4 linked regions of the Homo sapiens genome follow. The protein of the gene in region 4 purifies or fractionates together with the protein of the main gene of each other region. This does not show direct contact. Each region holds a gene or a part of one and is shown on either strand. Other genes may lie near its edges.

What was found. The genes of interacting proteins can lie anywhere in the genome.
Region 1: the proteins of HMGXB4 (region 4) and LIN52 purify together in Homo sapiens (affinity purification with mass spectrometry, with the first as the bait; one large-scale study listed by BioGRID). This does not show direct contact.
Region 2: the proteins of HMGXB4 (region 4) and HJURP purify together in Homo sapiens (affinity purification with mass spectrometry, with the first as the bait; one large-scale study listed by BioGRID). This does not show direct contact.
Region 3: the proteins of HMGXB4 (region 4) and ARID4B purify together in Homo sapiens (affinity purification with mass spectrometry, with the first as the bait; one large-scale study listed by BioGRID). This does not show direct contact.

Annotation. Positions count from the first base shown.
Region 1 is NC_000014.9:74,094,168-74,099,575, reverse strand, and holds part of LIN52 (protein lin-52 homolog), read right to left. Parts: intron 3,629-5,408; coding exon 3,591-3,628; intron 2,914-3,590; exon of another isoform or gene 2,857-2,913; intron 1,783-2,856; coding exon 1,716-1,782; intron 1-1,715.
Region 2 is NC_000002.12:233,836,416-233,841,823, forward strand, and holds the end of HJURP (Holliday junction recognition protein), read right to left. Parts: coding exon 4,194-5,408; intron 1,238-4,193; coding exon 1,162-1,237; 3' UTR 287-1,161; downstream 1-286. UniProt on the Homo sapiens protein: Centromeric protein that plays a central role in the incorporation and maintenance of histone H3-like variant CENPA at centromeres.
Region 3 is NC_000001.11:235,317,060-235,322,467, reverse strand, and holds part of ARID4B (AT-rich interactive domain-containing protein 4B), read left to right. Parts: intron 1-5,408. UniProt on the Homo sapiens protein: Acts as a transcriptional repressor. May function in the assembly and/or enzymatic activity of the Sin3A corepressor complex or in mediating interactions between the complex and other regulatory complexes.
Region 4 is NC_000022.11:35,287,516-35,292,993, forward strand, and holds part of HMGXB4 (HMG domain-containing protein 4), read left to right. Parts: intron 1-722; coding exon 723-892; intron 893-5,476; coding exon 5,477-5,478. UniProt on the Homo sapiens protein: Negatively regulates Wnt/beta-catenin signaling during development.

The DNA of each region.
Region 1 (5,408 bases), on a different chromosome or scaffold from region 4:
TAAAAATGTTCTTTCCTGAATTTTTATTTAAATAGCACCCAATTCCTTTTAGGTTTAAGACACAGGTCAGTTTGCATAGAATATAATGCTATGATCCCTCACTAAAAATTTAAAGTTGCCTTAAGAAATACATGCTGATGAGATATTATATAAATGTCTGTTTGAAACATTAGAAGAATGAACCTGAGATGCCCTTGAGACTTAATTTTTCCATGGCAGGAGGAGGGAATCTGCATTTAAGCATTTCATAAAGAACAATGAATTACTTCTAAAATCAAATAAAGGTGTTTTTTTTTAATCTCATTTATCATGCCACAGTCATTATCTACACCTAGCATAAGTAGACTTTCTTGATATGTTCAGCTGTTTAAATACCTCAAGAATCCCAGGTTTTTACCTTAATTTCAGTCTATTACTTCACAATCATCATGAATCTTATCACCAGAAGGATGATAAAATAAATAAAGTAGGGCAAAATCATGGAAAATTAATGTTTTTTAATTTAAATTTCCACTTTGTGATTGAGTTTCAAATCATTTATCAAACAACAATATTCACTACTTATAGTATTCTTTATAGAAGAAATTGATGGGATAAAAAAATAAAAAATAGGTCTTAACCCACTAAGAGGTTGTCATTTAATAGTACTGACAATATATGGCAGTAAATTCTAAATAAGGCACTTGTGTTATAATGGAAAGAGGCTAGACTTAAAAAAGCAGAGTTTACGCGGGGCGTGGTGGCTCACGCCTGTAATCCCAGCACTCTGGGAGGCCGAGGTGGGTGGATCACTGGAGGTCAGGAGTTTGAGACCAGCCTGGCCAACATGGTGAAACCCCATCTCTACTAAAACTACAAAAATTAGCTGGACGTGGTGGGGGATGCCTGTAATTCCAGCTACTCGGGAGGCTGAGGCAGGAGAATCGCTTGAACCCAGGAGGCGGAGGTTGCAGTGAGCCGAGATCGCACCACTGCACTCCAGCCTGGGCAACAAAAGCGAGACTCCGTCTGAAAAAAAAAAAAAACCAGAGTTAAAATTTTTTAACTTTTTTTTTTTTTTGAGATAGAGTCCTGCTCTGTCAGCCAGGCTGGAGTGCAGTGGAACTATTGTTCGCCACAACCTCTGTCTTCTAGGTTCAAGTGATTCTCCTGACTCAGCCTCCAGAGTAGCTGGGATTACAGGAGCTTGCCACCATGCCTGGTTGATTTTTGTATTTTTAGTAGAGACGTGGTTTCGTTATATTGGTCAGTCTGGTCTCAAACTCCTGACCTCCAGTGATCCACCCACCTCGGCCTCCCAAAATGCTAAGATTACAGACATGAGCCACGCCTAGCCAAATTTTAACTCATTCTATCTTGGTTAACTTATGAACTTTGAATATCATCATACCCAACTCACAGGACCTTTATGGGAATTAAATGAAAAAATTTATGTTAGAGCTATTCGTTAACTGTATTATACAAAATCAGGTTCACATTAGAAGAATTTAGCACCAGCAGCAGAATTCACTATGACTGAGTCTTGAATTGGCAGGATTTCTACACATGGAAAAGGTAGAGAAGGGCATTGCAGACATGAAAAACTACAAATAAGGAGGTTTAAATGAGAAGTCTGAAGCCAAAAATACTTGTAAGGAAACAGAAAAAAAAAATAGAGAGGTGGTCTATGGAAAAACATAAATATCCAGTTAAAAGTGGTAACTAGCATCACTTACCTTTCAACATGTCGATGTCATCACGTTCTATCTCAGCCATCCATTTGGGTGGAGAACTAGTAATAGGCTGTCAAAAAATAATATATCCATTCAGACACATAAAAAGTGTGAGGAGACCCTATTATTCTTATAAGAAGTGTAGCCTGGGCCGGATGCGGTGGCTGCCAAGGTGGGCGGATTACTTGAGGTCAGGAGTCAGGAGTTCGAGACCCGCCTGGCCAACATGGGGAAACCCCATCTCTACTAAAAATACAAAAAAAATTAGCCAGGCGTGATGGCACACACCTGTAATCTCAGCTACTTGGGAGGGTGAGGCACGAGAATTGCTTGAACCTCTTGAATGTGGGAGGCAGAGGTTGCAGTGAACCAAGATTGTGCCACTGTACTCCAGCCTGGGTAAGAGTATTACTCTGTCTCAAAAAAAAAAAAAAAAAAGAAAAAGAAAAAATGCAGCTTGTCACATAGCCTTCAGGTTGTTTGGAAATACTGGCAGATTATAATTTCAAAAACCTGGATTTCTCCAGGTTTAGATATGGCCTACAAATAGTCACTGCAAAAAACATGGCTCATCTTGAAAGTCAGTCTCAGAGAAATCACTGTGGAAGAATAGGTATGACCACTATTACTGATTTATGCCTAACAAGTTAGTATAGCAATGAATGAAATTACTTGAAATTCAGTTCTGGTGAAAGCCTCCAATTCAACTGTTTGAAACACTAATCAGTAAGTAACATTCTCTGGCATACGGGAGATTCAAAGAAGAATCAAGAATGAGAAAATCATCATTTTAAGTGAGAGAAGTCTGGAATGGTCATCACTTGGAATTTCACAATTTTATTGTAGAGGTTTTAGGAAACTTCAGAATTTTACAATTTTTCATTTATGAAAGTGAACTTAAAACTATGAAAGAAAGCCCATTCTTAGAATAGCTCTGGGTTGGCAGTTTAATGCTAGTTGCACACGAGAATCACCTGTGTAACTTTTAAAACTATAAATGCCTTGGCCACACTCCAGACATAATGATTTAGAATATGAGGGGTAGGGAAGGGTCCAGTGGAAAAAGTAGAGCAAGGGACTCCTCATATGTGCTTTTCTTTTTTTATATTTAATTAATTTTTTTCTTGGTGCTCATTTGTTACAGTGCATTTTTCAAGAGCTCCATAGCTGCATGTTGATGATTCTGTCATGCACAAAAGGTAGGGTTGAGAAACATTATTTCAGCTTTGCGTCTTTCTCTTTTTTTAATTAAAATGTACTCAGAACCTATTATGTGACAAGCAAAACACTTTACATGCATCAAGTCATTTACCTCCAAATCAACTCTATAAAGTAGGTATTTTTTTCACATTAAAAAAAACAAAAAAACAAAAACACATACATTGGCTCACACCTGTAATCCTAATGCTATGGGAGGCTGGAGCAGGAGGATCACTTGAACCCAGGAGTTCAAGACCAGCCTGGGAAATATAGTGAGACCTCTTCTCCACAAAAAATTTTAAAAGGCCAGGCGCGGTGGCTCACACCTGTAATCCCAGCACTTTGGGAGGCTGAGGTAGGTGGATCACTTGAGGTCAGGAGTTTGAGACCAGCCTGACCAAGATGGTGAACCCCGTCTCTACTAAAAATACAAAAATTAGCTGGGCGTGGTGGTGGGCACCTGTAATCCCAGCTACTCAGGAGGCTGAGGCAGGAGAATCGCTTGAACTTGGTAAGTGGAAGTTGCAGTGAGCCGAGATCGTACCACTGCACTCCAGCCTGGGCGAAGAGTGAGACTCTGCCATAAATAAAATAAAATAAAATAAAGAACAGAGATCTGAGCTTTTACTCAGGAGCGAAACTTTGGATTGACCTCAGTAGGTAAGGGATATTACTTACACTTTTGAAGGAAGCTGCAAATTCAGCAACACCTGGTACTAAAAAGAAAAACAAAACTTTATTTATTCAATAAGTATGATTGCTCAGGCATAGAAGATCCAAATAATAAGAAAACAGCTTTGTCTGTTTTCTTATAGTTTAGAAGAAGAGAAAGAATAAACCAATAACTATAACACTGTTTCAGTCCTCAAAGAAAGATGCCAGGACTATGGCAAGACAAAAAATGGCAAGCTAAGTCAGACCCAGGGGGCATAAAAAGCTTCTCAAGGAAAATAATGCCTCAACTGAACTTGGAAGGACCAGGAGTTAGCTGGTTGGGAGGGTGGTAAGATACAATATCTCTTACCAGAAAGTTTAAACTGCCTTTTTAGAGATGCTGTTCTGTCAATCCAATTTTATTTATTTAAATTTCTCACAGAAAGAATCACATTAAAATGCAGAAAAATAAAAATCAGGGCTGGGCATTTTGAGAAGTCAAGGCAGGAGGATCCCTTGAAGATCAGCCTGGGCAACAGGGCAAGACCCCAGACTCTACAAAAAATTAAAAAACGGGCCGGGTGCAGTGGCTCATGCCTGTAGTCCCAGCACTTTGGGAGGCTGAAGCGGGTGAATCACTCGAGCTCAGGAGTTGGAGACCAGCCTGGGCAATATAGTGAAACCCCGTCTCTACAAAAAATACAAAATTTAGCCAGGCGTAGTGATGTGCCCCTGTAGTCCTAGCTACTTGGAAGGCTTGAGCCCGGGAAGTTGAGGCTGAAATGAGCCATGATCACACCACTGCACTCCAAACTGGGCAACAGAGGAAGACCCTGTCTCAAAAAAAAAAAAAAAAAAAACAGTTAGTTGGGCATGGTAATGCACACCTATAGTCCTAGCTACTTAGGAGGCTGAGGCAGGAGGATGGCTTGAACTCAGGAGTTGGAGGCTGCAGTAAGCTATCATCGTGACATTGCACTTTAGCCTGGGTGATAGGATGAGCCTCTGTCTCTAAAAAAAATATATAATTAAAATAACATCTTTGCCTGAGCTCAGGAGTTGGAGACCAGCCTGGGCAACACAGTGAAACCCCGTCTCTACTAAAATACAAAAGATTAGCTGGGTGTGGCGGCATGTGCCTGTAGTCCCAGCTATTCAGGAGGCTGAGGCAGGAGAATTGCTTGAACCCGGGAGGTGGAGGTTGCAGTGAGCTGAGATCACGCCATTGCACTCCAACCTGGGCAACAGAGCGAGACTCCATCTCAAAAAAAAAAAAGTTCAATCTCACCAAAAAGGAAATGTAAAATGAAACTAATAGATTAGTAACATCTAATACTGGCTAGTATGTGAGGAAAGGGGCCCTCATACAGTTATCCTCTTCCATGTATATGAAGATATGTGTACATGGGTATTCACTGATAAACTGTCTGTAAAGTCAAAAACTAGATATAGGCCAGGCACAGTGCCTCACACCTGTAATCCCAGTGCTCTGGGAGGCCAAGGTGGAAAGACAGCCTGAGCCCAGGAGTCTGAGACCAGTCTGGGCAACACAGTGAGATCTTGTCCCCCCCAAAATTTTTTAAATAGCTGGTTGTGGTGGTACATGCCTGTGGTCCCAGCTACTCAGGAGGCTGAAGTGAGAGGATCACTTGAGCCCAGGAGGTTGAGGCTGCAGTCAGCTGTGATCACGCCACTGCACAAAGCCTGGGTGACAGAGTGAGACCCTTGCTCAAATTAAAAAAAAAAAAAAACTACAAAGTAGATATAACTTAAGTTTCCAAATAATGTATGAATACATAAACTATAATATATCCATACAATGAAATATATTTAAAAGAATGA
Region 2 (5,408 bases), on a different chromosome or scaffold from region 4:
TGTCTTAAACTTCTAGTCTTCAAAAACTGTGAGAAAATAAACTTCTACTGTTTAAGCCACCTGGTCTCCAGCATTGTTATGGCAGCCTGAGCATGCAGGTGCGCACGCACACACACACATAACATGGTCCCAATGTAAGACGCAGGGGGGAAGAGATATGGGGCAGGGTATGGGGGTGATACCTGACATCAGGAGAGCAATCGCCTGGGGCGGCAGGCGGGAATGAAAAATGTGTAATTTAATCTCATTTTAAATCTTTCATAAAAAAAAAAAACCCAAACTCATATGGCCATATATTAACTATTTACTCCAGCATGAGTTTCACCAATGTATTCTGAATATGTGAAATATTTCATTACAAAAACGTCACCATGATATCCTGTCATCAACAGCTTCAGTAAGAATCATGAGGAGTCACAGGCGCTGTGGCTGCAGGAGCGTCTGGGACCACCAGGACTGTTTATTTTCCTTCAAGGGTCATTGCATGCAGGGCTCGAACTTACGTCTCACAAGCAAACAATATTCTCGAATGAAATGGGAAACAGGAGAGAGGATTCTCTGGACATATCTAAATTTAAAAAAGAACACACGGCTGGGAGCAGTGGCTCACGCCTATAATCCCAGCACTTTGGGAGGCCGAGGCAGATGGATCACGAGGCCAGGAGCTCGAGACCAGCCTGGTCAATATGGTGAAACCCCGTCTCTACTAAAACTACAAAAATTAGCCAGGCGTGGTGGCGCGCGCCTGTAATCCCAGCTACTCGGGAGGCTGAGGCAGAAGAATCGCTTGAACCCGGGAGGCGGAAGTTGCAGTGAGCCAAGATTGTGCCACCGCACTCCAGCCTGGGCGATAGAGAGAGACTGTCTCAAAAACAAACAAACAAACAAACAAACAAACAAATAACCCCCCCCCAAAAAAAACACACACATCAGAAAAACAGGCCTATCAAAGAGAACCCTAAAAATTCTAATTGAGCAACTTTATTCACATAATTTCTACACCAAGAACTCGAGGTTATCTCTGATGGAACCAATTTCACTAATATTTACTTTAAGGGCAGAGAAGTCAACCAAGTCCTCACAGTCTCAAGAATCAAAAACAAAACAAAAATACAAACAGAGAGCAAGTGGGAAGATAAATAACACTCCGAAATAACCTAGCTACACACTTTTAGTTTCCAATTTTTCTAGCATGAAATCACTTTTCTCTTCCATCCTGTAAGACGTGTTCTCTCCTCTAGGAAAAAAAAAAGACAAAGAAAATGATGTTAGCAAAATTCTAGAATTCCCAATGCCAGCCACTAAAAGGTTAACTGTTTTCTACTTATTCCATTGCATGTATAAAAATACTTATAGAAAGTGGCATTACGTTAAATAAGTAAGTTATGTTAAAGAAACAACAAAAATATAATGGCAACCCCCCGACCCTGCTCCCCACACTCCCCCAGGGAGCACAAGCTGGTGGGGAAGTCCACATCCCACACCCTGGCCCAGCTAGCGCTGCTGCACGAGTGAATTTAGGAGTTCTAAGACTTAAGCTACTTTTCCATATCTATTAAAAGGAGAGACAGCCTGCCTATTGGACAGAATCGATCTAATCAAGGGGTTCTGGTGGGGATGAAAGAAGATAAGACGTAAAAACGGTTCAGCATGGCCTGGCACACAGAGAGCACTCAGACGTTAGGCATGAAAACTCCATATGTAGTTGCAGCTCATGAAGAATTGGTCTCTTTCCTCAAGAAATCTATCATTTAAGCGGGAAAAGCAGAAAAACATAGGAAACCAGTTAAACATGTTTATATTGTGGTTTAAAATGAAACCTGGGGTGTTCATGATTTGACTTGCTATCAAATTCCAGGGTAGCTGGGAGGGCCCTGCGGGGCCACCAAGGGCTGAGTCCTCAGGATGGTCCCACAATAATGCAACCTCACACCATTCTCTACAAGGCCGAGGTCCCTCCTGTGTGGCTGGGCCAGAAGAAAGCCCTTTAGACTGAGCAGGTGAAAAAGCAAGGCAGGAGCCTCTGCACGGAGCACTGGGGCAGATGTCACTCATGGAAAGGGGTCTGCAGGCGACTGGCACGGTGCCAGATCATGGAACAAGGTGGGAAAAGGCACGAGACAAAATCCCAGGGGCAGGATGATGGTAAAAGGAAGAGCTGGGGCACTATCTGAGAAAAAGCAGTTAGGTTTAGACAAGCAGGACGAGCAGAGCAGAGGAGCTCTGATGTGTGGGAGACCAGGAGAAACCTCAGATCTCTCTCTGGGCCGGACAGTTGTTTTTGGTGAAATTCTCCCCTTTCAACTGAGAAGGAGACTCTTGAGAGGTCATCTGTTAAACAGAACGCATAAACTTTGCCTCAAAGCAGCCTCCATGAAGTGTCTGCCATGAAGATGTAGCTGAGATTCTTGAAGGCTTCACTAACTGTGGCTGAAAGTCACCCGGCTGGTGGTTTGGTCTGAAAAAGCCCCAAGTGGGCACAGGAGTGGGCATCAGGCACACAGTTGGAGACCAAGACCCGAGGGAAAGACTGCTGTTAGCCGTGCACTGCCAGGGGAGGAGCTCCGAGGGCCCTGCCCACACAGTGCCCCTGACCCTAGCTGGGGCCCTGCAGAGAAAAACCTTTCCCATCACCTGAACACTTACGTATGTCCATCCTCAACTGGGAAGACAGATGACAACCAAGGCTTGTTTCATCTGCTTCTGGTTAGCTCACACAGTATGACTTTATACACGAAAATAACTTTGAAAACCAAAACATCCAACAAAACCTGGGAGCTTCTAGAACTGAGCCAAGGAGCCTGAGCCGCTAACCCATGAGACTGGTCTGTGTCCAGACAGCTCCCCACTGCAGCACCCACCATGTGCAGCCCCTGGGAGGGTGGGGGTTACCTGCACGGAGCAGGCAGCTGAGCGGTGGGTGGAGTCTAGGGAGGATGTCCGAGGATGCAATAGCAAAGAACTGGGGAGTAGGGGGAGAATGCCAGTGAAAGTTCCCTGGAAGGGAAGGGCTGTCCTACGGCAGACCCTGGAGCAGGTGGCCCTGAGCAGTCCAAGGGCATTGGGAAGACAGAGTGACAGTGAGAAAGGCCCCAGGGGGCTCAAGCCACAGGAGGCCGCTGGCGGTCTGAGAGTGTGGTCTCTGCCATGCACAGGCGGGACTGCAGGCTTCGAAGGCAGGCACCACAGAAGGAACAAGGCATACCAGACCTTGGTTCTGAGCTGGACGCACGGCAGGAGCCAGTGGCTGAGAAGGGCTCGCAGGCCAGGCGGGTCCAGGTGGGAGAAACAGAAAATGGGACACTTATGGCAGGCAGGGTCCACCCAAATGACCTCAGAGAAGAGGCACATCGCCAGGCTAGGGCACAAGGGAAGAGGATACTGGAGACACGGCCTCACCTGCTGGAACCACAAACACACAAAACCCAAAGGAACCGGCCAAATCAAACCCACAGTCAAGTCCCGTCCACCTGTGGGTTAAGAAAGTCGCATCCTCCAGATCCTGACTGTGGACACACAGAGAAGCTGTGCTGGGGAATCCAACCTTTAATGCCAACAAAGGTACTCACTCCCACTGACCCACCCCACCCCACTGTCTCTAGAGAAAAGGGCACACGCAGACTAAAACTCTAGCTGACATGATTCGCACAAATTAAGCTGCAGAACAAGGTGCAGAAGTTTTAACACTGAGCACTGAGATATCTGCAGGGCACCCCTCGCACCTGTGAGAATACTGTGCTCGTGGCTCTCCCAGGCCACTCTTGCTCTTTCCCTACCAGGAATCCAGAAATAGGAAGTCATTCGCTTTAGATCACTTTCGCCTTACAACAGCTATTTTCTGAGTGTCAGATGAAGAGGTTAGAAATGAAGGTTTGACAAAGACGAATAAAGCGTAGTAAGTGAGGATTTGCAGGAAAAAAGCCTCTGAATGCATTCTAATGGAAAGTGTGAAACTTCTGCAAGAGCACTTTCTGCTTTACCTCGATGCATCTTACACAGGGACACATTCTTGATAGAGACGCTGACTTTACAGGAAGGAAAAGCATTTGGGAGAAAGCTCAGAAAATGATCACGTATGTAAGAATTCGGCTGAGATTCACTAAACGTGGCGCAAAGATTCCTACCATAAAAAGCCTCTGTCCAAAGAGCAGTCACTCACATAAACCACATTCAACCAACAGAAACACACCTACCTCTCTTCTGAGTTGGGCTGTGAAGAGCTGCCCTGGTCTCCCGGTCTGACGGTGTTGTCCACCCCATCTGAGGCACCCAGGGAATTGCCCTGGCGTCCGGAGCCCTGGGGTTCTGATAGCCTGGGTCTTTTTGCAGGGAACTGATGGTCCCTCGTGCCATCCCTCGTGATGGCACGAGCAACACATGTAGATGAAGGAGCCTCAATTGCAGTTGAGCCCAGTAGACTTTTTCTGCACCCCAGGGGTGATGATGGCAACTTCTGGAAACCCTGGAAGTGAGGGTCTGGATTTAATTTTCCTAAGAAGCCTTCTGTTTGATATCGAACTTCCATACTTGCTTTATCTGTAGACACTCCAATACATAAAGGCACTGTCATCTGCCCAGGAGATTTGAGGCAATACTTTTGATGAAGCTTGTCAAATTCTTCTTTAATTTCATCGTAACGATTCCTTCCGTGGCCTGGCACTTCTTTATCTGGGACTGAAAGAGTTTTGCTGGGTGACACTGACTTTCTAAATATTCCAGAACTATTTCCCTGAACGTGAAGGTCAGATGTCTGCTGCGGGCGAGTTGCGCTGTGTGTGGGGTTGGTCTTTGGAAGTGATGAAGATGAATCGCTCTTGGGCAGGCACCTACCTGCTTCCAGAGATCTTTTGCCTAGGTTTTCAAAAGCCTCACTTAAACTTTTTGCTTTTGCTTTGCTGGAAGGTAAACTCAGCCTGCGGGTTTCTAAGCCCTGAAGGCCACCAGGACTCGCAGGACCCCCTCTGTACATGTTCATGGCCCAGGAGTCCGGGAGGCACATCCGGCGAGGCTGGTTCCTGGGACTCAGGCAATATTCCCGATGAAGCTGATCAAATCGGATTTCAATCTCCCTCTGACGGTTCTCTCCATGGCCCTGTCGTATTGTTGGTCTGGAAACTATTTTTACAGGAGAAATTAACCATTTTAATGTCCTAAATCTATTTTCCTCATCAAGATTATATGTTGCACTGGAGTCGAAGTAAATCAAGGAAGAATACTTCGAGGGTGTCACTTTGCGCTCCTTCCAACTTGGATCTAACTTATGGATTTGGGGTCTGTTGACTTCAAGAAAAGCTTTTTCCAATTTTAAACCTGTCTTACGGCAAGAAACATCTAATACGTTCTTGCAATCTCTTAATGCCCCTGTCCCTTTCACAGGCTCAGAGCAGGGTATGAAGTTCTCCTTGGAG
Region 3 (5,408 bases), on a different chromosome or scaffold from region 4:
ACTGGAAAATGAACGAAACAAGGTGAAGTATCTGGAAACTGTAAGTAATTTGGTGTGACTGAATTAACTTAAAGCATGATATGTTTGGGTAGGAATAAAAGGGCAGTGGTGGGAGATGAAGCTGAGTGAGGGAGTCGAAAATTTTCTTGGCCAGGCATGGTGTCTCACACCTGTAATCCCAGCACTTTGGGAGGTTGAGGCAGGTGGATCACCTGAGTTCTATACCAGCCTGGCCAACATGGTGAAACCCTGTTTCTACTAAAAATACAAAATTAGCAGGGCATGGTGGTGTGAGCCTGTAATGCCAGCTATTAGGGAGGCTGAGGCAGAAGAATAGCTTGAACACGGGAGGTGGAGGTTACAGTGAGCCGAGATCATGCCATTGCACTCCAGCCTGGGTGACAAGAGCAATACTCTGTCTCAAAAAAAAAAAAATTTTTTCTTGAAAACTACATGGAACCATTGAAAGTTGTTGAGAATTGCTTGAACCCAGGAGCTGGAGGTTGCGGTGAGCTGAGATCAGGCCACTGCAAAAACAAGGGGAGAGCTGAATGTAAGGATGGAAATTCCAGGTAAGAAGTCCAAGTGGAAAATGAATAAGGGCCTGAACTAATGCATTGGAAGTGGAGCAGAGAGGATAGATCTGAGCCTTTTTGAAGTAGAATTCAGGGCCGGGCACAGTGGCTCACACCTGTAATCCCAGCACTTTGGGAGGCTGAGGTGGGTGGATCATGAGGTCAGGAGATTGAGACCATCCTGGCTAACACAGTGAAACCCCGTCTCTACTAAAAAAATACAAAAAATAGAAATTAGCCAGGCTTGGTAGCGGGCGCCTGTAGGACGCTGAGGCAGGAGAATGGTGCGAACCTGGGAGGCGGAGCTTGCAGTGAGCCGAGATCACGCCACTGCACTCCAGCCTGGGCGACAGAGCAAGAGTCTGTCTTAAAAGAAGTAGAATTCAGGACCTAGTAACTCATCCTGGGGTAGGAAGAAGATGGAGGTTTTTTTCTTAGGAAATTAGATAGATGTTACTGTCATTTGAAGCATGCTGTCATTGGACCTGCTAGTTAAGATGTAAGAGTAAGTAGGTAGGATGAAGTCAGAGGCTTGGTTAATCTGGTGTGAATGTTAACCTCATATCTATGATATTTGAAGGGATTTAAGATCCATAACATGGCAAATTTTGTGCTATAAATTTGTGGTCCTTTAGATGAATAGGTAATCTTGTAAAATACTAACATGTTTTCTGTCCAAATTGCTAAATCTTTGTTTATTGTAATTAAAAAAAATACTAGGTGAGTACCTATGTCACTGAAGAATGTTTTTGCCAAGTCAGCCAGTGAATTCAGTCATTGAACACATTGTGTACTTTCCTTGTACCGGACATTGTTCTGGGTTTTGAGGATGCAGCAGTGAATAGAACAAGAGTTCTTACCCTCGTGGAGTTTACTTTCTACTATGGTGGACACACGTTAAGAAAAAAAATAATGCTAAGTGCTTTGAAGAGAAATGATACGGAATCAGAATAAGAGGTTAGAGTGACAGAGGGTGGGTTACTTTAGATTAGGTGATAATGGAGGGCCTTTTCGAGATGACATTTAAGTGTGCTGTGAAACAAGTGATAGAGTGAGCCATTCAGGTTTCTGGGGGAGGAGCATTCCCTGCAGAAAACAAGTGCAAATACCCTGAGATGGAGTGTGCTTGGCATGTTTGAGTGTGATACATTTAAGGAACATTAAGGCCATCAGGGCTGGAGTGGTAGGAGAGGAGGTCAGAGAGGGTCACAAAGGGCCAGTACAATTGTAGGGCCTTATAGGACATGGTAAGGACTTGAGTAAAATCTGAATGTGTTAGGAACCCTTTGAAGGGTGTTGAGTGAAGTGATGTGATAAACATTTTCAAAAATGTTTGACTGCTGGGTAGTGAACACATCATGGGTTCGAACAGATCATGGGAACACAAGAGTGGAAGTAGGGAGATCAGTCAGAAGGCTGTCAAGCTAGTCCTGGGGAGAGATGGTGGTGAGGAGAAATAGTAGTATTGGGAATATATTTGAAGATGGGGATGATTGGATTTCAATGGATTGGGTGTGAAGGGAAAATTCTACTTACTGCAACTTGCACATGTATGTCCTCCCACAAGTGCCCTCCCTCCTTTTCTTTTGAGACGGAGCCTCTCTCTGTTGCCTAGGCTGGAGTGCAGTGATGTGATCTCGGCTCACTGCAGCCTCTGTCTCCCGAGTTTAAGTAATTCTCTTGCCCCAGACTCCCCTGTAGCTGGGATTACAGGCACCTGCCACCACGCCTGGCTAATTTTTTTTGTATTTTTTGTTTTTTTTTTTTTAGACGGAGTTTCGCTCGTTACCCAGGTTGGAGTGCAATGGCACGATCTCGGCTCACTGCAACCTCTGCCTCCCAGGTTCAAGCGATTCTCCTGCCTCAGCCTCCCAAGTAGCTGGGACTACAGGCATGTGCCACCATGTCTGGCTAATTTTTGTATTTTTAGTAGAGACGGGGTTTCACCATGTTGGCCAGGCTGGTCTCAAACTCCTGACCTTGTTATCCACCTGCCTCGGCCTCCCAGAGTGCTGGGATTACAGGTGTGAGTCACCTCGCCCGGCCTTTTTTTTTGTGTTTTTAGTAGCAATGGGGTTTCACCATGTTGGCCAGGATGGTTCTGAACTCCTGACCTTAAGTGATCCGCCCGCCTTGGCCTCCCAAAGTGTGAGCCACTGCACCTGGCCGTCCTCCCTTTTTTTAAAAAAGTCTTTTTGCTGTGATTAGTTGGTAGATGGGATTCTTGGAACTGAGTATGACCATGAAGGCATTGTCAAATCTTAGCCTTCTCAGTGAGCAGTGAACATTGAGTTGAGCAATCCTTTCACTTGTTTTTTTAATTAAAAAAAATGAGATATAATTCACATACCATAAAATTCACCCTTTTATTTTATTTTTTTTGAGACATGGCCACAGTCTGTTGCCCAGGCAGGAGTGTAGTGGCGCAATCACAGCTCACTGCAGCCTTGATCTTCAGTGGGCTCATGTGATCCTGCTTCAACCTCCCAGGTAGCTGGGACCAGAGGTGCACGGCACCATGCCCAGCTAACTTTTAAATTTTCTGTGGAGGTCTCACTGTGTTGCCCAGGCTGGTCTTGAACTCCTGGGCTCAAATGATCCTCCCATCTTGGCCTACCAAAGTGTTGGGATTACAGGCATGAGCCACCGCGCCTCACCAAATTCACCTTTTTAAAGTGTTCATAAATTTCTAGTATTTTCACAAGTTTGTGCATCCATCACTACTATCTTTTGAAAACTTTTTTGTTAATTTCTTTTGTTTGTTTTTTTAGAGATGAGGTCTTGCTGTGTTACCTAGGCTGGCCTTGAACTCTTGTGGTCAAGTGATCTTTCCCCCTCAACTTCCTGAGTAGCTGAGACTTCAGGCACGTTACTTATCCCTAGCTATCTGTCACTGCTATTTAACTCCAGAACATTTCCAAATTCCCAACAAGAAACTTCTTATCCATTAGCAGTCATTCACTGTTCTCCCTTTCTTTTATCCCTCCAGTAACTAATCTAAATTTTTTTTTTGAGAAGAGTTTTGATTCTGTCACCCAGGCTGGAGTGCAGTGGCTCGACCATGGCTCACTGCAGCATCGACCTCCTGGGTTCAAGCGATCTTCCTGCCTCCAGCTCCCAAGTAGATGGGATTACAGGTGTGCGCCACCATGCCCAGCAAATTTTGGAATTTTTTGTAGTAGTGAAGTCTCACTATGTTCCCTAGCCTGGTCTGGAACTCCTGAGCTCAAGTGATCCTCTTGCATTGGCCCCCAAAGTGCTGGGATTACAAGATTCAGACACTGAGCTTAGCATTTACTTTCTGTCTATAAGGATTTGCGTATTCTGGGCATTTTCTGTTAACGGAATCCTGTAATACATATGTGGCCTTTTTGTGTCTGATTTCTTTTACTTCCCATAAGTGAAAGAAGTAGCAAGTGTTGACCAGGCGCGATGGCTCACGCCTGTAATCCCAGCACTTTGGGAAGCCGATGTGGGTGGATCACGATGTCAGGAGTTCAAGACCAGCCTGGCCAAGATGGTGAAACCCCATCTGTACTAAATAAAAAAATTAGCCGGGTGTGGTGGTGGGCGCCTGTAATCCCAGCTACTCAGGAGGCTGAGGCAGAGAATTGCTTGAACCTGGGAGGCAAAGGTTGCAGTGAGCTGCGATGGCGCCACTGCACTCCAGCCTAGGTGTCAGATCAAGACTCCGTCTCAAAAAAAAAAAAAAAAAAAAAAAAAAGGAGTAGCAAGTGTTAATACTATGCTCTTTTTTATTGCTGAATAATAGTCCATCTTATGAAGATACGACATTTTGTCAGTCTACTTATTTGGAGGACATGTGGGTTATTTCTGCTTTTTTGCTTATTGTGAGTAATGCTGCTATGAGCATTTGTATGTAAGTTTCTGTGCGAACATGTATTTTTAATTCTCTTGGGTCCTGGGAGTGGACCTTTCAGTTCTTAGGGTACTAATATTACCTGTGTGATAACCTGGGGAGTGCTGAGTATTTAACTTCATGTATTTTGTGTTGTGGCAAGTGGCCACCAAGGAGTTGGACATTTAAAAAATTAATTCAATATTTATTGAATACTTATTATGTATTGGTCTCTGTTCTAGTCAGTTGGAATATGTCAGGGAACAAAACAGGTAGAAATTCCTGGCTCTTTGGATCTCTTAGGAGTACAGGAAACTCTGGTATTCAAGGTTTCCGTAGAAAATAATGTGCTTTTAGAAATCATAATTTTCGTTCTAAAATTGGAGACAGCATTCAGATTTGGGGAAGAAAAAAATGAGTTTATGGAAGTATATAAACAGTTTACTAGAAAATAAAAAGCAGGTCTACTAAGGTCAGCATAGACAAACTATCTTCATGTTCACCTTACCATAGTGGCTGTTATTTTAAGCTGGTTAATAGAAGCAAGGGACATAATGAAAGAGTCAAAAAGGGAAAAGTTTTAAAACAATACTTGGCTTACTCTGAGCATAGTTTCCCCTTTCCTTAATTAACGCTTGCTCATATATTACTCAGAAAGTCCAAGTGTAGGCTTCAGAGGAGAGGAGCCATAGATAGCTTTCATCAGATTCTTGATGAAACCCACAGTACAAATGTTAAGAAACACAGCTCTGTGGTATCATCTGTTGACTGATCTGCTGCTAATCTATTTAATAGGAAGAGTTGTTTCTATATCCTTCTACTTTTACCATTAAAGAAAAAGTAATCAACTAGTCACTGTTCATTTTATTTTCAAATTTATTTTTGCTTAAATCATTGCAGAATCAGAAAAAAATTTTTATTATATTGTTTCTGAAATGTTAACATTTAGGTGAAATGCTTAATCAGGTTGAGTA
Region 4 (5,478 bases):
AACTGGGAAAAAAGCTTGCAGTATTAGAAGTGGACCTTGATTCCCAGGTATTATTACCTGGGAATGTTACAAGCTACCAAAAAGAGATGTTCAAATTTAGAAAATGCAAATCAGAAGTCAGCAAACTTTTTCTTTAAAGGTCCAGAGAGTAGACCAGGCGCAGTGGCTCATGCCTGTAATCCTAGCACTTTGGGAGGCCAAGGTGGGCGGATCACCTGAGGTCAGGAGTTCGACACCAGCCTAACCAACATGGAGAAACCCCGTCTCTACTGAAAATACAAAATTAGCCGGGCGTGGTGGCGCATACCTGTAATCCCAGCTACCAGAGAGGCTGAGGCAGGAGAATTGCTTGAACCCGGGAGGTGGAGGTTGCGGTGAGCCGAGATCGTGCCATGGCACTCCAGCCTGGGCAACAAGAGCAAAACTCCATCTCAAAAAAAAAAAGGTCCAGAGAGTAAATATTATAGGCCTTGTGTGCCGTATGCATTCTCGCATTCTCTGTCACATATTCTTTGTTTTTCTATAGCCCTTTAAGAATGTAAAACTATTCCTAACTCACAGGCCATAAAAAACAAGAGACCATAGACTGAATTTAGCCCACAGGCCACAGTTTTGCTAATGCCTGGTATAATTCATAAAAAGGGAAAATCAGGAAGAACAACTTTGTGTTGTTCAAGGCTGTAGGCAAGTTTTACCTGTCTGCCTCATTGCTCTGTTCTCAGCCTCTTCTGTAGGAGTACTGTCACCCCAGAAGAAGTCCCCACCCACCACCATGCTGTTACCAGCCTCACCAGCCAAAGCCCCTGAGACAGAGCCCATTGATGTTGCTGCTCATCTTCAGCTGTTGGGAGAGTCCCTAAGCCTCATTGGACACCGTCTGCAGGAAACTGAGGTGAATACAACTATCAGCAGCATGACTACAGTTTCCCATATAGTTTCCCATATAATTTTGATTCATTCACTCATTTTACATACATGTATTGAGCATCTACTTTATGCTAAATTATGCCAGGTTCTCAGGATGGCGTAACATAGAAGATATAATGATAATAACAGAAATATCTATAGAGATATTCAGTCTACCTGTTAGCTCTCAAAGTTTCACTAATGATATCCTATTGAAACAATGGCACAAAAAGAAATTGGAGTACCCTGTAACTTATTTTTATTTTTTTAAAATGCAGTGGAGGCTGGGCGCAGTGGCTCACGCCTGTAATGCTAATTTGGGAGGCCCACCTGGGAGAATCGCTTAAGGCCAAGAGTTCGAGACTAGCCTGGTCAACACAGTGAGACTCCATCTCAAAAAATACATATATTCAAAAAATTTAAAAGAAATAAAAATGGGGCCGGGCGTGGTGGCTTATGCCTGTAATCCCAGCACTTTGGGAGGCTGAGGCAGGCGGATCACGAGGTCAGGAGTTCAAGACCAGCCTGGCCAATATGGTGAAACCCTGTCTCTACTAAAAATACAAAAATTAGCCAGGTGTGGTGGCATGCACCTGTGGTCCCAGCTACTCGGGAGGCTGAGGCAAGAGAATCACTTGAACCTGGGAGGCAGAGGTTGCAGTGAGTCAAGATTGCGCTACTGTACTCCAGCCTGGGCGATAGAGCAAGACTCCATCACAAAAAAGAAAGAAAGAAAGAAAGAAAAACGCAGTGGTGGCTGGGCACGGTGGCCCATGTCTGTAATCCCAGCAATTTGGGAGACCAAGGCAGGAGGATCGCTTGAGGCCAGGAGTTGGAGAGCAGCCTGGGCAACATAGCGAGACCCCATTTCTACAAAAAATTAAAAAATTAGCCAGGCATGGTGGTGCACACCTGTAGTCCCAGCTACTCGGAAGGCTGAGGCAGATGGATTGCTTGAGCCCAGGAGCTCAAAGGCTGCAGTAAGCTATGATTGCTGCACTGCCCTCCAGCCTGGGTGACAGAGCAAGACCCTATCTTTTTTAAAAAAACAAAAACAAAAAGGCAAGAAAAAGGATGAGTACAAATTCCATAGCAGTTTTGATTACTTCTGTCTCCTTCTAAGAGACTTTGAATTTTTCTCTGCATTTCCAGCAAAGTCTTGAATATTCAATTGTATAGGAGATTAAGAGTTCCTCTGTTTTGAAAATAGGTAACAAATGGAGAAGTTAAGGTTCCCAGCTCTCCATTACTCTGCACTTAAATTATACAGTGCTATATGCCCTGGGGAGATTTTTGTCCTTTTAAGCTTCAATTTCAAAAATCACTTAACCTGCACAGCTGTCGTGTTTCATTTCTATTACCATATTCAATTTCTAACAATATTGTCCCCTTAGCTAACTCATTAGTATAGTAGTTCCGCTTTCCACCAAGTTCTAGTAAGACATTTCAGCAAAGAAGTCAGTCTAAGCTACTAAAGCCATTTTTAAGCTAAGAAATTAGTGTAGGAATGTAAAACTAATCACTTGCTTCAATGTGGAAATTGAATTATTCAACAAATAAAATGCCAAAGGCCACAAGAGCTGAAGCTATATCTAAATTCTTTGGCTAGTTTCTAAAAATTTTAGCAGTAGTCAAAAGAACTTCAGCACCTTCATATAGGCTCGATATCTGAATGGATATAGATATTTCCAGAAGAAGTATTCTATGACCTTACTTATTTTTCAGATTTAATCATTCTTACGTTTCGTAAGAAGTTAGAAGTAAAAACAGTTTGTTTTAAGCGTATTCTGAATTTTCCCAGATATTTCCATTTAGTTTAGTAAGTACAAAGTTCACCCTTTTAAAGTGCAGAATTTAGTGATTTTTAATATATTCACAGAATTGTGAATCACTACTATTTCATTCCAAAACATATTGTTACCCCTAAAAGAAACCCTGTACCAGCCAGGCGCGGTGGCTCACGCCTGTAATCCCAGCACTTTGGGAGGCCGAGGCAGGCAGATCATGAGGTCAGGAGATCGAGACCATCCTGGCAAACGTGGTGAAACCCCATCTCTACTAAAAATACAAAAAATTAGCTGGGCGTGGTGGCGGGCGCCTGTGAGAGGCTGAGGCAGGAGAATGGCGTGAACCCAGGAGGCGGAGCTTGCAGTGAGCCGAGATTGCGCCACTGCACTCCAGCCTGGGCGACGGAGCGAGACTCCGCCTCAAAAAAAAAAAAAAAAAAAAAAAGAAACCCTGTACCCATTGGCAGTTATTCCCCATTCTCCCTCTAATCCACTTTTGGCCCGAATTTAATCATTTGCATAGATCTCTGCAATTTTATAATTTCCACATACCACTTAATACTTTTACTTACTTTATAATTTTATTTAAATAAACTTGTCTGTGCTTTTACAGTGACATTCATGACATCTCAAGGGTTATATTCTATTTTTTTAATGTACATCGTAATGGACATATAATTATCAAAATAATATGTTCAGTAGTAAATTAATGTTCATCATTTTAGCAGTAAAACTGGAACATACAATGCATAAGTTAGAAAATTAAGGCTAGAGGCCGAGCACTGTTGCTTGTTCCTGTAATCCCAGGACTCTGGGAGCCAAAGTGGGAGGATCACCTGAGGCTAGCAGTTCGAGACCAGCCTGGCCAACATGGCAAAACCCCATCTCTACTAAAAATACAAAAATTAGCCAGTTGTGGTGGTGCACACCTGTAATCCTAGCTACTTGTGGGGCTAAGGCAGGAGAATCGCTTGAACCGGGAGGTGGAGGTTGCAGTGAGCCGAGATCACACCACTGCACTCCATCCAGCCTGGGCAACAGAGTGAGACCCTGTCTCAAAAAAAATAAAAATAAAAATTGTGCGTGTGTGTGGCGTGTGGTGTGTGTGTATCTTAAGAAAGTTAAAGCTAGAACCCAAATTGCAGAGGGACTTCATAGACATTCTGAAGTGTGTATACTTCACTGTTGGGGAACTACAGGGGTTTTTACAGTGGAAAGGGATGAGATCAGAGCTCTCATTTACTTTTCTCTGAGAATATCTTTTATTTTAGATTGGAAGTGAAAAGAGACCAGAATTGGGGAGAAGTTAAAACAATAATCCTAGTCTAGATGTGACAAAGATAAATTAGCTATAAATAAATATAGGGCAAAGGAAATGGAACAATATTACTAATTACTGACATTTTTGGGGTTTTAGCTATTATCTTCCCTGTATACTAATGTTTTATTGAAGGCTCACTCACCCAGCTTTGGTTCAGAGTGCTTAATATGAATTATATCATTTAATTCACACTGCAGCTTTGTGAGGCAGAATTTGTTCCCCCCATTTTACAGAAGAATAAACAGACTTAAAGAGGTGAAGTCACTTTCTCTAGAGTTTAGCCCCTAAGTGGTAAAATAGAGACTTGAATTTGGAATGTGACCTCAAGGTCCGGGTTCTTAACCTCTTACTGTACTGCTGCCCTCAGAAAGTATAGGGGGGAGATGTTGACAAGGAGGATGAGGGAAAGGAAGAGTCAGTGATGGCTAGGCCTTGAGACTGGGCAGTTATGTGAATGGTGGTGACTTTGGCAGAGAAATGGATGCTCAAAGGAGGGCTAGATTTGCATGGGAAGGTTATTCTTCCTTACAGGAAGTTGAGATGGAGAAATATCCAAAAGGAGAGACCCAAAAGACAGCCAGAAATGCAGTTTTGAAGATCAAGATGTTGGTAGTAATATTCATAATTACTGATATTTTTTGAGTACTTAACCATGTATTAAGCACCATCCCAAGTATATTATATCTATTATCTCAATCCCATCTGCTGCAGATGCTGTTAGTATCTTACAGGCACAGCATAGTAAGCAACTTGCCTAGGTACAAAACAGTGAGTAGTGGAGCCAGGATCTGGACCCGGGCAGTCTTGAATCCGGAGCTCATTTTCTTAAGGACTGTGCTGTGTTGCTTCCCAATATGACATATTCTCACACTGCTTCTAGTTAAAGCAGATTATACAAGAACTCGGCAGCAGCAACAGTCTTTCTTATCTCTTTGAATCACAAATAGACAATATGAATTACATAAAATGTTAAAATTTGAACCAAATTCACTTTGAGAGTGAACAACTCAACCTAGAAAAATTGTATAATCAGCTATCAAAAGCTACATACATGCAGGGTTGTAGGATTCTCATAGTAATCACATCTGAGCTATATTTGTCGAGTTTATAACAGATATACTTTGCATACATAATCACAAATCTTACCAACAGCTCTCCAGAGTAGGTAAAGCATTTTTTACTGTTCCTGTTAAGGAGACAGAAGTTAAGGATGTGAACTCCCCAAGGTCACTCAGAAGGTAAGAAGATGGGCTAGGATTACGGAAAGGGAACATGGGAATGTGCTGTAAAAGTTTTCTTTCTAAACAACTTACAGAGTTATCAAAGTAAACTTTCCATTTCTGCTGTAAAGTTTCAAATTATAAGAGTAGAACTGCCTAGGATTTAAAGTACTGTGTGAGGAAGTCAGCCGGAACACAGCATCAGGAGTGTGACTCAAGCAACAACCTCCTCTCCTTTTCAGGG